2 linked regions of the Homo sapiens genome follow. The protein of the gene in region 1 purifies or fractionates together with the protein of each later gene. This does not show direct contact. Each region holds a gene or a part of one and is shown on either strand. Other genes may lie near its edges. The genes, in order: F10 and PIP4P2.

What was found.
Region 2: the proteins of F10 (region 1) and PIP4P2 purify together in Homo sapiens (affinity purification with mass spectrometry; one large-scale study listed by BioGRID and IntAct). This does not show direct contact.

Annotation. Positions count from the first base shown.
Region 1 is NC_000013.11:113,139,671-113,143,498, forward strand, and holds part of F10 (coagulation factor X isoform 1 preproprotein), read left to right. Parts: intron 1-1,248; coding exon 1,249-1,380; intron 1,381-3,828. UniProt on the Homo sapiens protein: Factor Xa is a vitamin K-dependent glycoprotein that converts prothrombin to thrombin in the presence of factor Va, calcium and phospholipid during blood clotting.
Region 2 is NC_000008.11:90,993,020-90,995,905, forward strand, and holds the end of PIP4P2 (type 2 phosphatidylinositol 4,5-bisphosphate 4-phosphatase), read right to left. Parts: intron 2,802-2,886; coding exon 2,658-2,801; 3' UTR 783-2,657; downstream 1-782. UniProt on the Homo sapiens protein: Catalyzes the hydrolysis of phosphatidylinositol-4,5-bisphosphate (PtdIns-4,5-P2) to phosphatidylinositol-4-phosphate (PtdIns-4-P).

The sequences.
Region 1 (3,828 bases):
TTGGGGGCATGATGAGAGAGACACAGTCACTTCTCTGCTCCTCCGAGAGAGACTGTAGAACATTGATGAAGCGTGTGATCCATTCATGTGTAAACAGGAGTGGACTCTCTGTTTTCCTTGGGGCCAAGTGCATTGCCCTGTTATTCCTGCTCCTTGTGACCCTGTGCAGTGATTCTAAATCACCTCTTATTTATGTGTATGGATGCAGGTGTCAATATTTGTGAATATTTGTGATTGGCCAATTATAAAAATTTGATACATTTAATTAGTTCTACGTGGAAAAATCACTAAGTGCTTTCTCTAATGTGGTGATTAAGTTTTAAATAAAAAGTTAGGCTACTGTTAGATCAATTTCCCTAAGGAAAAAGATTTGCATTTCTTTTAAAGTACTTAATTGATCATCTTTTTTTTTTTTTTTTTTGAGATGGAGTCTCGCTCTGTGGCCCAGGCTAGAGTGCAGTGGCACGATCTCAGCTCACCGCAAGCTCCGCCTGCCAGGTTCACGCCATTCTCCTGCCTCAGCCTCCCAAGTAGCTGGGACTATAGGCCCCGGCCACCAGTCCCGGCTAATTTTTTTTTTTTTTAATTTTTTAGTGGAGACGGGGTTTCACCGTGTTAGCCAGGATGGTCTCGATCTCCTGACCTGGTGATCCGCCCGCTTCGACCTCCCAAAGTGCTGGGATTACAGGCGTGAGGCACAGCGCCGGCCTAATTGATCATCTTTAGACTGTGTTCTTAGATTGGATTACTTTTGAGTTTTCCCTGATGAGAATATCAATTACGCATCATTCCATTCCAAGTCCGCAGTCGCCTCCCTGGAACACCATTTGGTAACTTATGAGGCATAACCCTGTTCAGGCTCCCAGGGCTATTATGCACATTTTCTAAAATTTCAGGCATGTTGATCTTTGCACTGTGATTACTTTTTCATCAAAAGCCACACAGAGGGATGTGGAGTGACCGTAATGTGAGTGCTGCTGGGGCAGGGGGTACCGGCCATCCCGGAGGTGTGAGGGGCAGGTACCTGGAGCCTGGCTTCTGGCTACACCGGGCACTGCACCATGAGCTCCCCGTGACCCGTGAGGTTGCCCTTCAAGGCAAGTGTACCTGTCGCCTGGCTCTGGCCCTTTGCTCAACCCAATGGCCGCTTTGTGGCTGACAGGCAAGTGGATGTAGCTGGCACCCTTGGGCCAGCCCAGCCTCCATTTCTCCAGCTGTCCCCAGAGCCAACGTGCCTCTCCTTTGCAGTCACACGGAAGCTCTGCAGCCTGGACAACGGGGACTGTGACCAGTTCTGCCACGAGGAACAGAACTCTGTGGTGTGCTCCTGCGCCCGCGGGTACACCCTGGCTGACAACGGCAAGGCCTGCATTCCCACAGGTAGGAGGCACGTTGGGCCACAGCCACCCGCTGCCGCTGGGCCGGGCCAGGGAGGACAAGCCCGTGCCAGGGGGTGGGGACACAGGCATGTTCTGGGCGGGCCTGGCAGGTAACAGTGACACCAAGAGGACAGGACTGAGCCCTGGGCTCCGGGCCCAGGTGGTTCAAACATGAAGACCATGAGGTTTGGAAACAGACCCATTATTTCTGTAAGCCAGATCTGCTGTTTAACCTCAGCTTCCCCATCTGACAAATGGGACCAACACTATTGCCTGACTGCTTGGGTGATCCCTGGAGCACTTTGCATGATGCCTGGCCCACCGCAGGCCCTCAGTCTGCATTGGGACTGTGGGGGGATCCAGTGCAAGGGCTCAAAGCACCAGGGCAGGCAAAGGGCAGAGCTGGCCCGAGGAACTGGAGCTAAGGTGCGGGGCTGGGATAGGAGTCAGGGGACGCTCAGGCTCTGAGCTCCTTTTACCAGGACCAGTGTTCATTGAACGTAGTTTTTCTTTTCCTTGATGAATGTGGACAACAGGCGGCCAGAGGGCAGTGAGCACAGGACAGGCAGGGGACTGGGCAGGGTGGGGACGAGCCTCCCTGTCCTGACCCCGTGGGCATTGCCTACGCTGGGCTTGCCTGGCTGCCGGCACTTCCACACGGCCAGCACACATGAGGCCCTCGAAGGCGGGGCCTAGGCGTCACAGCTGCACCTTGCACAGCAACCCCACTCCCACTCATAGCTGGCCCGACCCGCAGCGTTGGCCTCACCCGGGGGCATATTCGAAGGGCAGAGTTCCAGGCCCGCCTTTTCAAGAGCCTGGTGACCCAGCTCACCTTCCGGCTTCAGGTGCGGCTCAGCCCCCAGACCGTGTTCTGCCCCCGGCTACCATGACTGTCCCCTCCAGACACAGGTTACTCCCGAGTGTTCTGTCACTCTTCCTTTCATATCCTTCTTACCGAAAACAATTTACTTCCAAAGATGAGTGATCACGAAAAGACCGGGTTCCATATGCATCCTTCAAGCGCTGCTTCAATTATGTGCCTGAAACATCTCAGCAAGTGAAAGACACTGTGGCTGACCTTGCTACTGGCAATGACATTCAAGCTTAAGCTGGTTAAAAAATATTTTAACTGAAGTCATTTCTTGACATACACACGAATATTTTTTAATTCTAGAAACAATCACAAATCCATTTAAAACCAAGTGTGGGCCGGGTGCAGTAGCTCATGCCTGTAATCCCAGCATTTTGGGAGGCCAAGGCGGGCGGATCATGAGGTCAGGAGATCGAGACCATCCTGGCCAACACAGTGAAACCCCGTCTCTAGTAAAAATACAAAAAAAAAAAAAAATTAGCTGGGCATGGTGGTGCACGCCTGTAGTCCCAGCTGCTCAGGAGGCTGAGGCAAGAGAATGGCGTGAACCTGGAAGGCGGAGCTTGCACTGAGCACTGAGCCGAGATTGCGCCACTGCGCTCCAGCCTGGGCAACAGAATGAGACTCTGTCTCAAAAAAAAAAAAAAAAAAAAAATCAAAAGGCAAATGTGATGTGTGAAAATAAAATTACATAATCTACTTTGTAGTGCAAAAAGTTCAGGCTGGGCAAGGTGGCTCACGCCTGTAATCCCAGCACTTTGGGAAGCCAAGGTGGGTGGATCACCTGAGGTCAGGAGTTCAAGACCAGCCTGGCCAACATGGTGAAACCCTGTCTCTATAAAAAAAAAAATACAAAAACTTAGCTGGGCGTGGTGGCGCACGCCTGTAATCCCAGCTACTCGGGAGGCTGAGGCAGGAGAATCGCCTGAACCCAGGAGGTGGAGGTTGCAATGAGCCAAGATCATGCCATTGCACTCCAGCCTGGGAGACAAGAGAGAAACTCCATCTCAAAAAAAAAAAAAAGTTCAGTTCCAAATAATGGATGAACTCAGAACTTGGAAGGGTGGTGACTGCACACATGGACAGAGCTGAGGCACGGCGGGGTGGAGGCCCCTGCGGCTGGCAGATTCACCGGAGCCTCCTCAGACTGCGCAGGAGCACAGCAAGTAAACAGCTAAGCTGTGCCCATCTGACCCCAGACACGTGTGGCCACAGAGAAGCCCCTTGCCATCCATTCCCCCCTCCTCTCCTCTCCTGCTCCCCCACACCCCTGCCTTCCTCCAACATGTTTCAGCCATTCTCTTGGCCTTGGTGCCCTAATTGGCCGTTATACAAAAGGAAGCTTCCTAACATCTCGGCGTGGCCTCTCTGGGAGCTGTGCTATTCCAGACGCTCTCCTGTGCCTCCAGTTGTTTGCGTGCGCCATTCCTTCTGCCTGAAAACTTTTTTTTCTTCAATGTTTCATTAGGAAAAGTTTTCCAACACACAGCACACTGGAAAGAATTTTGCAGGGAGTCGCACACGCCCAGCACTTGGGTTCTCCTGTTGGCATCCTCCGGCCAGATGCATTCATCC
Region 2 (2,886 bases), on another chromosome or scaffold:
GTGGTGTGTGTGTGTGCGTGTGTGTGTGTGTGTTTCCAATGTCCTCAGCATTACAGGGGTATTATTGTAATTTCTACTTCTTTGTTAATATGGTAAGTGAAAAATAGTATCTCTTTGTTTTAACTTACATTCTTCAAATATTAGAAAATTGGGATCTGGGTGCGGTGACTCACACCTGTAATCCCAGCACTTTCGGGGGGCGAGCTGGGCATATCGCTTGAGCTTAGGAGTTCCAGACCAGCCTAGGCAACATAGCGAAACCCCATCTCTACAAAAAATCCAAAAAAAAAAAAAAAAAAAAAAGCCCAGCATAGTGGCGCATGCTGTGATCCCAGCTACTTGGAAGGCTGAGGTGGGAGGATGGCTTGAGCCAGGGGAGTGGAAGCTGCAGTGAGCCGAGATCACACCACTGCACTCCAGACTAAGTGACAGAGTGAGACCCTGTCTAAAAAAAAAGAAAAATCGAAAAACAGTTTATGACCTATTGTAGTCATTTTGTGAATTGCTTTTTCATACCGTTAGTCCCTTCTGATATTACAGTCTTTCTCCTATTTTGAAAATAGCTTCACCAGTTTGTCTTTTGGCTTTGCTTAAGGGTTTTTATCATACAGAAGTATTTTGGGGATTTTGTTGTTGTTGTTTCATTGTATCAATCCTTTCCTATATAATTTCTTCTTTTAAGTTCTACTTAGAACGTTTTTTTCTTAACCCAAGGTTATACAAATACTTACCTATACATTCTGGTACAAAATATAAAGTACATATTCAAGTGTATATAAGAATTTAAAATAGCAATTCATTCAACCATTTATTCATTCATGCATATTCATTCACGTAAATTGAGCACATGTACACTAAGAACTGTTCTAAGTGGGGATAAAGCTGTGAACAAGACTACCAGGGTTCTTGCTCTCATAAAGTTATTATTCCAGAAGGAATATGACATAGCATATAATTTAATGTGAGCTTTCCAATCAATGAGGGAAAGAATGGATTATTCAGTATACAATGCTGTTACAACTAGTTAACCATTAGGAAAAGAAGTAAGATTATTTTATACCTAACATCAAGTGTATTACAAATGGATTTAAAAACTATATTTTAAAAATAAAACCATTTGAAAATAGTACAAAAAACATAAATGAATATTATATAAAGAAACAGGTACATTCCTAAACATGAAAACTTTACAGCAAGATTTCAAGGCAACTCTGGAAGTGACATTATTTTTAATGGAATAAAACAAGGTAATTTTTGAACAATAATCTTTATTAGTGTATTTTTAAAGGTACATATAATCCTGAGCTACAGCATTTATACATTTGTCATTTACTCTTTGAAGTGTACATGTATTTTGCTTCAAATTCTGTGATGAGTACGTTTTTATACTAATCAGTATCATAAATAATTTAAAATATTAGTCTTATCTCTGGAATCACCAATCAATTTACTCAGATGATCTCACTGTCTAATTCTACTACATTTAAAGACTGTAGAACATTTGTGATTAAGCAATTTCTTTTTCAAAACTGCAAAGATGGGCAGTGCGAGAGCTGATTCCATAAATTTCAATGAATTCTTAGAAAATTATGTTGTTCTTTATTTCTGATCTATTTTCTTGAATAATTTGGGTAATTATCTGATCAGTTACCTTTGAGAAGAATAGTAAAAGTACCTCTAATCTCAACATTTTAGCTACTGTAAAATGTCATAAGCTTCCTTCAAATATAAGTAGTACATAATTACCTCAATAAGAAAAATTTACCATGATCTAAGGGAAAGGGGCACAACCCAATGTAAATATATCTTTGGATAAATGGTTAAGTATTATAAAACATGTTATGTGAAATACTTCCTCAAGCCTCTATAAAGGAATACATAGAGCTGATAAACATTAAATTCCATAATCCAGACCAGATCTTTTATAAATGGTAAATAAAAAGGCAAAAATGAAAGACAAAAGTCCTGTGATCTTTGAGAAAAGACATTTATCCAACATCTCCAACTGTGGACAAATAAATATTCGTTCTTGTATTTTAAATTACTACCAAAATATTTTATCTTTCTACAAACAACAAAAAACAAGCAAACAGTATCTAGAAATTTTTTTTCCTCTGACAAGAATGTCAAGTCTTTGAAGTTACACTAAATTTTTTTTTTTTTCCTGAATAAGGTCACTATAATCTTAGGTTAAAGTTACAGTAAGCAGTTCAAGCAAAATGCATATTGCTTAGGTTTTAAGCAAGCAATTTTGATACTGTTTAATTAAAATGTAAATATAAATGTGAAACTATTATAGAAATATTTATAAACACTTAGGAATACTCATGTATCAGCAAGTAATGAAATAACTTATTTAAAAATAATAAAAGGGTGAGAGTAAATGTAATGTTTGGTAACAAATCCAAAAATATCTATAAGAGATGTAAAAGAACATGAAAAGGCTTTATTATTCAAATTTTGAAAACCTAGCAGCAAAACAATTTGCATATAATATAGTGCAATGAGCATTTGTTCATAAAAGACTCCCAAAGTCTTGAAACGATTATACATAAACCAGAATGGAATCCATTAGGATAAATAATTTAAAGATGTCCAGAGTAGCTTACCAAGAACTGCTAGACACTCTCACCTGCATTACTGAATCATAAACAAGCTTATGCAAAACTGTGTTCTGGATAACTGACTCTTATGGCTCCCCAATAACAAGCTCGGATAAGGCAGATCAATCCTAGGAGATAAGCAATTGCCCAAGAAACATAGGTTGCTCGAAATCGCCTTGCAAAATCTGGGGTGCCAACCTAAAATAAAAAGCAATATAAAAACAAAATATTAGAAACTTTAAAAAATATCTGCTTAGGGAACTTGTATCAGCTTACATGTGAT